2 linked regions of the Homo sapiens genome follow. The protein of the gene in region 2 purifies or fractionates together with the protein of the main gene of each other region. This does not show direct contact. Each region holds a gene or a part of one and is shown on either strand. Other genes may lie near its edges.

Region 1 (5,487 bases), on a different chromosome or scaffold from region 2:
AAGACTGTTTTCAATTTTTTTGCATTTTTATACCACTACGATGAACATCTCTGTACATCACTCATTGGTGAGATTTTAAAATTGTTTACCTTAGGCTGGATTCCTAAAAAAGGTAAATACTTAAAAAGTGCAAGACCTTTTCCAGAAAGTTACATTTCTACCAGCAATGTATGAGGCCTATTTTGTTGCATCCTCACCATGATTGATATTCTCATTTAAAAATCATCTGCTAATTTCATAGGAGAAAAATGATATCTACTTTTAATCTGCATGTCTTTGATGATTGGTGAGTTTATATTTTTATGATCTTATCAGTCACCTGTATTTCCTCTGAATTATTTGTTCACATCCTCAGCCTATTTTGCTATATATATGAGCTTTCCTTAGCAACTTTTATGAGCTACGGATATGTTGAGAATATTAATTCCTTATTTATAATATTTGTTGCAATATTCATACCTTCCCCAATCAATTTTTTCATTTATTATTATGATTTTTGCTTTGTGATTTTTTCCCATTGCTTGTATGTTTAGAAAATCTTTCCCTTGTTTCAAGGTCAAGTATATTTCCACCTAGTTTTTAAAAACTCATTTATTCTTTGTTTTTTCTGCCTTCAACTCTTCATCTGGAATTTCTTTATATGTGGCATGAGATGAGTTTCTAATTTTTTTTCTCCAGTTATTTAGCTATTCCAAAGCCTTTTACTGACTAATCGTTACCTTTCCCATCTATCTCTGATGCCACCTTTACTTTTTTTCGTATTTTTTTCGGTACTGTACTCCAGGCCATCATTCTAGTCCACTGACTTGACAGTAATTTTTCACTTGTCCCACCTGGCTCAAATTACTGTAACTTTACAATATATGACATTAGTTTAAATGACAAATATTTGGCTAAAGTATACACAGCCCATAAAACAGGCTACGTCCATAGCACTAGCACCTTTCCTATCATTCACTGCTATGAACAACAATCTGCAAGGCTCAGAGCCATGCAGGAGGGTCAGTCCCCTGGCAATAGAAAGAGGGTTGGGGCTAAAAGGAGGTGTGTAAGTTTCAAAGGACACTAATCTGGCCTATAACCTGAAAAAGTTAAATGAATCTACAGCAAGTTAAATCCTGGTATAAAACATACCAAGGGATTGTCAACATTTCTGGTTTGTATTAGAATCTGGCTACATTAATATGACTTGAAATGAGCTGGACAAGATTAGAACTTCAAATCTTTTTGTCACATAGAGATTTTTCAGATGCAATGAGATTTGATCTATATTAAAAGGCATCATCTCTACACTGCAACACAGAGCACAAGTTTAGCATAAAAGTGGAATTCAAATACAAGGGAAGTCTTTTGTTCCCCCCTTACCTGGACTTTTAGTTCTAGTTCTCTGATTTGGTCTTCTTTCACCTTCATGTCCATCGTGAGCTTCTTGCCCTCTGCTTCTAGTTCTCTGATCCGATTCCGTAAGGTTTCGGTGCATTCTCCCCTTTTGAAAAAGAAGAGAAGGAAATAAAGTGATTTAAAAGACTATAGGTTGGGGCTGGGCCCTGTGACTCAGGCCTGTAATCCCAGCACTTTGGGAGGCCGAGGCAGGCAGATTATTTGAGGTCAGGGGTTCGAGACCAACCTGACCAGCATGGTGAAACCCCGTCTCTACTAAAAATACAAAAAAAATTGGCTGGGCATGGTGGTACATGCCTGTAGTCCCAGCTACTGGGGAGGCTGAGGCAGAAGAATTGCTTGAACCCAGGAGGTGGAGGTTGCAGCGAGTCCAGATCGTGCCACTGCACTCCAGCTTGGGCGTCCGAGTGAGACTCCATCTCAAAAACAAATAAATAAATAAATAAATAAAATTTTAAAAAAGACTATAGGTTGGCCGAGTGCAGTGGCTCACGCCTGTAATCACAGCAATTTGGGAGGCCAAGGCAGGTGGATCACTTGAGGTCAGGAGTTCAAGACCAGCCTGGCCAACACAGTGAAACCCTCTCTCTACAAAAATTAGCTGGGTGTAGTGGCACACATCTGTAATCCCAGCTACTCGGGAGGCCGAGGCAGGAGAATTGCTTGTACCTGGGAGGCAGAGGCTGCACTGAGCTGAGATGGTGTCACAGCACGTTAGCCTGGGTGACAAAGTGAGACTCTGTCTCAAAAAAAAGAAAAAAAAAAGACTATAGGTTTACTTGTATTGTGGGATTTATATTTCTTTTAATTTCTTTTATACTCCAGGGTCTGTCAGGTTTTAGCTTTTGGCTCAGTCTGCTCAGTTCTCTGTGTCCTTTGATAATTTCAATAATACTCTAAAATAACTGGGCTGGGCATGGTGGCTCATGCCCGTAATCCCAGCACTCCCAAGGCCAAGGTGGGAGGACTGCTTGAGCCCAGAGTCTGAGATCAGCCTGGGCAACACAGAGAGACCCTGTCTCTACAAAAAATTTAAAAAATAGCTGGGCATAGTAGCACATGCCTGTAGTCCCAGCTACTCAGGAGGCTGAGGCAAGAGGACAACTTGAGCCCAGGAGTTTCAGGTTATAGTAAGCTATGACTGCACCATTGCACTCCAGTCTGGGTGACAGAATGATATCCTGTCTCAAAATACATACATATATACAATAATTATTACTGAGTGTCTAGATGAGCCAGACACTAAGGTACTTTACCCATACTACCTTCTTCAATCCTTATAACAACCTAGGGTATATTTATCCCATTTTCCAGATAAGAAAACTGAGGCTACATAGATAAAATACTAGTTCAAGGTTACCTAGCTTTTAGGTCTTAGAATAGGGATAAGAACTGAGATTTTCTGGCTTCCCAATCCAGCAAACTTCCCACCAGGCCATGAGACTTGAGACAATACACACAAAGCCAGATAGAACTGAACATGTACTATGTCCAGCAGGGGGCGGTGAACTAGAAAAAAATTTTCCCCCCACTTTTGAGGGGCTACGCATTGGGACTTTTGTCTTTCTTGTCATAAAGTTGCCACAAGACTGGAGTAAACAGAAAAATAAGGGCACACTGTTGAGCTGCTTCTCAGGGCTATCATAAGGTTGAGCTAAAAGAGATGATGGCAATGGCCAGTCCAAAGCTGGTACTGTCTAGGTTCCAGAAACAGCCCAATGAAGAAAGTAGGTGTTCTCTGCCTACCAAAACGGAAGGTCCAGTCAGAGATTTATGCCCTGAGATTTACTGAATAAATTATGGCAGGCCTGGTGTGGTGGCTCACGCCTGTAATCCCAGCACTTTGGGAGGTCAAGGTGGGCAGATCACCTGAGGTCAGGAGTTCGAGACCAGCCTGCCAAGATGGTGAAACCTCGTCTCTACTAAAAATACAAAAAGTTGCTGGGCACGGTGGCAGGAGCCTGTAATCCCAGCTACTTGGGAGGCTGAGGCAGGAGAATCGCTTGAACCTGGGTGGCAAAGGCTGCAGTGAGCTGAGATCGCGCCACTGCACTCCAGCCTGGGTGACAGAGTTAGACTCCGTCTCAAAAAGAAGGAAAAAAAGAATAAGTTATGAAAAACAAGGACTATCCAGGGATAAGATAAATAAGCTTAACTGGAAGCAAAAGGGATTTGGGGTAGACACTGAAATCAACTTACTGATTCTCAGGCATGGGAGACACTAAGCAATATCGTTAAGGAACTGCTATGTCCTCCTGAGTGGAATTTTTCAGAAAGGGCAGGTGCTGTATGAATTGAGGAGAGAGGAGAGCAGTCATCACTAGATGACTGTTCAAGAACATCTCCTGCAAGTTTAAGTGCTTCAGAATGCAAATACATCTTCAAACAAACAAACAATCCCACATTGTAGGCAGGCTAGTCAAGGGCCTTGTAAGTCTGTATAGATGCTGATGGGCCAAGCCAGCTCAGCCATCTGCTGGGGGGAGGCAGGATCACACAGGAGAGAGTTCTCACTTGCTGTTATTTCCTAAAAGGTGAAATGATTCACCAATTATTCTGCAAATGCCAGAACCCACAAAGAAGGCTATCAACATGCCAAAAGTTAAATTACTTAACTTTAATTACGACAAAGCAAAATTCAAGGAAAAATTACAGTTGAATTATACCACGTAGATACAAATTAGGATGGAATTTAAAAGTGAAATAAATAATAATTTACCCTCGCTCTATATCTGCAAACACCTAACTGATTCCCACATGCAGAGGGACTTCACTAGTCAAGAAAACAAAGGAAAAAGTGATAAGTGAAGTAGAAGCAAAAAGAAAAAAAAAGCTCTTAACTATCTAATAGTTTTTGGAATACTTGCACACAGGGGTACTTTCCAGTGGTATAGGAGGTAGTCCCCAATTTTCATTATGCCATAAATGTAATTCCATCTAGTAGAGACTTATGTTTCACTTTTTTTTTCCATTTCATTTGACAGTTTGCTGATATCCATTTGAGCAGCCAGTACACAGTGCTTGGGCAACCAAGATTTTATCTTTCTTCCATTTTAAGATAAAAACTTCAGAAACACATATACCTAAGAGTGGAGAGTAATGATAGCTCTCTAAAGGGAACGAACTTCCAGATAGAATCTCTCAATGCATTTAGTAATCATCAGTCTGACAAAAAGTGACTGGAAACCTTTTTATGAGCAGTACTTTGCCTCCCAGGTATGGGAAACATGGTGATTCCCTCATCCCACTTTATAGATGAGGTCACTGAGGGATAAAGCTGTTATAAGATAGTGCAAGCTTGCACACATGGAGTTTAAACCAGTTAATAAAACAGTACTTAAAAGCAATCCATCCGTGCATGATTGCTGTACGTCCAATCCTGCCCAAGGCACCAAATTCCCATGTCTTTGTTGGTAAAGGAAAGCCAACCTTGGATTAAACACTCAGGTGACATGGACATACCTAGATGCAGCAGCAAACGCAACAGCCCGGGCAGCAGTGGCTTCTTCTAACTTCTTCCTCTTTTTCTCTTCCATTAACTGTTTCTCTACAAAACTTCGGGCTTCCTGCTCAGCTTTTAGCTTTTTCTCCAACTGGCTGATATTCTGCTTGTCTTTTTGCTTCATTTGCACAGCATTATGTAACCTATATGGAAATGATTGTCATATAAAGTCTTAAAATTACAAATGCCCACTATAAACCCTTGAGAAACATCTCTTTATCACCTTAAGGCCAATTAAACAGGAGGTTTGAACAGCAAATCAAAAATGTCAATGCCCAGAATGCCTGAGGAAAACACACTGTTATTCTTTAATAATTCCTAAACACCAATAAACAAGCTGCCTTACAAAACAGAGATTAAGACCTAGCCTCTGCTCTGTTCAAGTAAGTGATCTACAAAAGGTCATCCAGAAAACAGGGTAAAACAAATTTTGAACAGAGGGGAAGATAATTGTAGAACTAATTCTAATGTTCCAGAGCACCCTGAAAGAACTTCAGTCCCACCAAAGAACCACTGATGGGACCAGCCCCAGTGAAACTAAGGTAAGGGGTGGAAAGGGGAAGGTTTTTATTTTTCCTGAATAC
Region 2 (5,141 bases):
AGAAGCACTGATTCAAGTTGTGCTTGTGCTTGAACTTTTAATCTTCTAGATTTGTGAGGATGGCTCTTTTTCCTTCATAATGGATTACAATGTAAGCAAGTCATGGCCATATACTGGAGACGGGCTAAAGCTGCTTTTCCCTTAAAGTAAGTTTCCTACAGATAAGGTATTTATGAGCACTGAGAAAGTCAGGACATGTACTCTAAATCACACAGAATGTTAATTCCACAGGAAGGCAATGCCAGACATTGAAAGAGGATCACATTCAACTTTTAATAGTAGTTCAATAACAAAACCTTAGCTTTTCAGGAACAATGTGAAGATACATTAGAATTGCCACATCCATATCTTCAAAACACGCAACCTCTGCACCCTAATAACTGCTTACGGTATAATCAGTATGATGATGAGATTGAGGGGGTCTAAATTTAAGTTCCTTATCTCCTGAGTTATGTGAAAATATCCCTCAGTACAAAACATTTGTGTGTTTCACAGATGACTCTCTTGTTTTGCCGTAATGCTACCAAGTTTATGGAAACTAGTCAACTGAAGGATTTTTCTGTTGTGTTATGTGTAAATGTCTGAACAGTAAAATCATCTGTGTATTCCTGTAACATTCACGAAGTATGAGGAAGTGGGTTTCTCCTTGTTTGATGTGAGTGGTTTTGCTTGTTGCATGGGTTCCCTGTGCTTTGTAACTTGCATGAACACAACCAGGTTTCTCAACAATGATTTGTCTGCTGACTCTTTTCAGAGATAGTGAAGGAAAAAAAATGTATTAAAACCCCAAATTATCTAGGTTTCCAAGTAGGAAAAATAAAGATACATATGACTTTTATTATTATTCGATGATAATTAGCTTTATATAATGTGGCATCCTTCATAAAAATTCACTATGTTGTGAGGCAAACAGATTTCTCACTATCATCCAGTGTACCCTGCTCACCTTCTCACTCCTAGCACCGTTCTTCTGGTCTGTGTTGAAAAGGGTATCATTCATGTGGTTTCAGTTTAGAAGAGTCCCTCAGAGCTTTGCCTCAAGCAATTTCAAATTGTAGTGATACCTTAAATCATGTATTCAGGATGCCTTCTTTAGCATTTAGAACCCCAACTAGACTTATACTTTGACTAAAGTCAGAGGCAGACCAATTTAGGGAACAGATTTTGTTCTTTGCTTTTATGATACATTTGTAACTCACAGCTGTTAGCATGACCTCACATCACTGCGTAGGACCCGGAAATCACATCTCCTGGTCAGGTCACGAAAAAGAACACAGGCTTGACTATTGTCCAGAAGTTACTTTCCCCTTGACTAAAGGTTTCCCCTTAGGGTACACATTGCTATTTAACTTTGCCTCCTACCCTTTTTTGTTACCTTCCAAAATCAAGACACTTTTAAGAAACAAAGATAGTTTTCTGAACATTCTGTGTCCTGCCTGTCTCCTGTTGATTCGCAGATGTAATATCGAGTATTCATCAACTGGTCTCAATTTCCTGAACACATTCACTGTATCCCTCATTGTCACCGTTATCCCCCTGCTTCAAAATGTGCCAGTTCCACTTGGTAATAACGTTGGGAAAATGCAGGTTTATGAATGATGTGGACTTTTAGAGGATCAAATCAATAAATTGGATTTTTTATTTTTTGAGGGCAGCTGCCCTCACTGTTTTAAATAAAGAATCTTACATAAGAATGTTGACAACATTCACAGTAAGCCATTGGCAGAAAATTGATCTGCATGTCCTAGACCAATGATTACAAGGTGTCTGTGGTTTAGGGGGCCCAGCCCATCATTCCTTTTCCCCTTGGCACTCATGAGAGAGATGCCAAGTTCAGTGTGGATTTTTCTTGGTGCTCTATGGAGAAATGGAGTCTGTGTGCTTACTGAAGAGTCCCAAAAACCAGAGACCATTTTCATTTACTGCCATCATAAATATTCTCCACCATTCAAGATGCCTGTGTACACGGCTATTTGGGAAACTTAAGTGTTGGAGGAGGCAGGGGCTGAAGGTGTCAAAACCTCCTCAGTAGGATAACCCCTTTCTCCCCTTTGGACCATCTGCCATCTTTCATGAGTGTTTCCCATGGTGTTTTTGCATCCAGAGTTGACAACAACTCAATTTTGCCTTGAATTTACTCAGTCTTATAAATTAAAAATGTGCATTTTATATAAAGATGCATTTTATATAAAAATGCACACCTTTAATCTCTATATGGCAGCATATACATATATATATATAAAATGCACACTTTTAATCTCTATATGGCAGCATTTTTGAGGCTTTATATCTGCCCGTGTACCCTCAACTGCCTCCTTTTTGCAGAGAACGATCCCCACAGGAACTGGTCTAAGAACACTGTCTGCACATGATTGATGCTTAAAATCCAATATACCACCACATATCAAAGGTTGGGATTTTCAGAGTCCTTCTTGATTTCTGAGCTGAAACCTTAACAAATAGGGAATTTGGCAGGGAAGACACCTGGGTTTTTAATTCAGAACCCTATTTATATACTGTTAAAATTTGAGGTACTGTAGTTTATATAAAAGTCGGATGTTAAGATATTATATTTCAGTACTAGGAGCTTCTTTGCAGTCATTAACATGACAAATTAAGTAATAAATATAAAAGTGATTGTCCATAAATTATCATTGAATTTTTTGTTTATTTTGTAGTGTTCTGTATTTATCTGCACTTTGTGTATATATACACACATACATATGCCAACATGTAAATAACCTCATGTTTATTCCTAATCTAAATTGCCACAATATTTTTAATGTATGGTTACACTGTGTTTTAAATTACTTTAAAAATAAACTTTGTAAGCAGATTTTAATTTAGTCTTTGTACTTGAAGACCCACTGTGTTGGAGGGCAATTGTCTTGGCTTCATGTAGAGAAAAAACAAAGTTTCTGGTACTGTGAGTGATCACTTTGGTATGGCTAAATCATAGCAGAATTTGGTGACCTTCTCCTCACAAATTGGTATTCTGCAAGCTTTGGAAAATGTTAATGTTGATAACCTATTAATAATGCAGGTATCCACCGAGGGGAGAGGGAAATGGGCCATATGCAAAATACTAAATATAACAAGCATACAGGCTTACCTGAAAATATATATGTTTATAAAAGTTTCCAAGTGTACTATGGAAGAAATATCAGCGTACAAATACCTCCTGTCCATTTTTATTAGTCTTATGAACCTCTTGGTCATGACTTGACTTCTAGGTAAAACTTTGCTTCGCTGCATCAAAAAAAAAGATAATCGTGTATTTCTTTTGCATTGCTCCATAGATTATTAGAGTGCAGCAAATCACCTTGCCAAAGCTAAGCCTCACAGGTTGACCATTGGACAACCTGGCTTGCTCACATAGGTTGTAGTTTTCATCGATATCAGAGGAAAAGAGATAAATTCATGACACAACACCTGTTCAGATATAAGGATTAATGTTAACTCCAGTATAGTTAAGCAGGAAAGGACTATTAGGTTAGATATTACAGATTATTCTAGATGAGCTACTGTTTAAGAATGTTGGTTAAGACTGTTGGCCTGGAATCCCCTATAACTGATATTTTAGAATTAAAAATGAATTAACTTCCAGTGGCCAAAGCCGGAATGATTTGAGCAACAAAATAATGCAGTATTGAATGATTGGCTTATAAAACAAAGTATAAAATGAATATCCATGAATCCACATGGATATCAATGACAATAAATTTCACTTGTGTAAAAAAATGAGGGAGAAGAGACAAATCTTTACAAAAATATTCCAAATCATAATTGGAGTTATAGTTACCCTTCCCTCTAGCAGGTAGAATTTAATCCTCTCCTGCTTAAAGGTGAGCTAGACTTAGTAACTCATTTCCAAAATTTAGAGTATAGAAAACCGTCATAACTTTATAGAAAAGAAACCTAGTAGCCACTGTCTTAACCAAGTGGTAAAACTTAATATCAGTGATATCATGTGGTTGACTTACACCCCATAATATGTGATGTGAAGAGCAATTCACCTCTGTGGTATTCTTTCCCCAAACCCATAATTCCAGTGTAACCATTAGAAAAACATCAGACAAGCCCAGACTGAGGACATTCTACAGAAAAGATCTCAGCCCAGTACTCCTCAAGACTGTTGAGCTCATGAAAAATAGGTAAATACTGAGCAAATGTCACAGATCAGAGGAGACTTAGGAGACAGGGCAACTAAATGTAATGTGGAACCCTGGACTGGATCCTGGAACAGAAAGGAGAAAATAATAGCGGGCGTGGTGCCTCGCGCCTGTAATCCCAGCACTTTGGGAGGCCGAGGCGGGTGGATCACCTGAGGTCAGGAGTTCAAGACCAGCCTGGCCAACATGGTGAAACCCCGTCTCTACTAAAAATACAAAATTAGCCGGGCGTGGTGGTGCATGCCTGTAACCCAGTTACTCAGGAGGCTGAGGCAGGAGAATCTCTTGAACCATGGAGGCAGAGGTTGCAGTGAGCCGAGATTGTGCCATTGCACTCCAGCCTGGGCAAAAACGAGTGAAATTCCATCTCAAAATAAATAAATGAATAAATAAATAAATAAATAAATAAATAAAAGATAAGCTGGTGGTGTCCAAATAAGGTCTAAACTTTAGTTAATAGTTTAAAAAACAAGGTAACAAAAACTACTCAAAAAATAGTACATGAGCTGGGGATACTTATATCATTTTGGGAATTTAAGTGACTTTTTCAAGAATTAAACATTTTCACTTGTTCCCCATTAAATTTTGATCTGTGTGTGCAAGATACATCTCCTATTCATCAGTCAATCTCAGGCTTTAGAACAGAGTTGGGCATACATGAATACAGTAGAGTAAGCCCCTTTCATTAAATGAACAAATTCATTAGCAAAGGAACAAACATTGTAAACCCTTTAATAATTTAAAGAATACGGTTGTGGGCTTGTGTTTTTATGTCTGTCAATTCTCCCAGGAACAGTGAAATCATTCTTCAACATCCATGAATATATGAATCTACTCTGGAGCCATTTATATGTTAATGGTGTAAACAAACCTTTACACACATGAACAGGTCTTAAGGGCAGAGGTTAAACAGATTTTCTTCTGTCATTACCAGACCTAGCAACACTTGATTGAGCTGTATAATTTGGG

What was found. The genes of interacting proteins can lie anywhere in the genome.
Region 1: the proteins of ARHGAP42 (region 2) and MACO1 purify together in Homo sapiens (affinity purification with mass spectrometry; one large-scale study listed by BioGRID and IntAct). This does not show direct contact.

Annotation. Positions count from the first base shown.
Region 1 is NC_000001.11:25,485,172-25,490,658, reverse strand, and holds part of MACO1 (macoilin), read right to left. Parts: intron 5,047-5,487; coding exon 4,864-5,046; intron 1,487-4,863; coding exon 1,366-1,486; intron 1-1,365. UniProt on the Homo sapiens protein: Plays a role in the regulation of neuronal activity.
Region 2 is NC_000011.10:100,991,100-100,996,240, forward strand, and holds the end of ARHGAP42 (rho GTPase-activating protein 42), read left to right. Parts: 3' UTR 1-2,842; downstream 2,843-5,141. UniProt on the Homo sapiens protein: May influence blood pressure by functioning as a GTPase-activating protein for RHOA in vascular smooth muscle.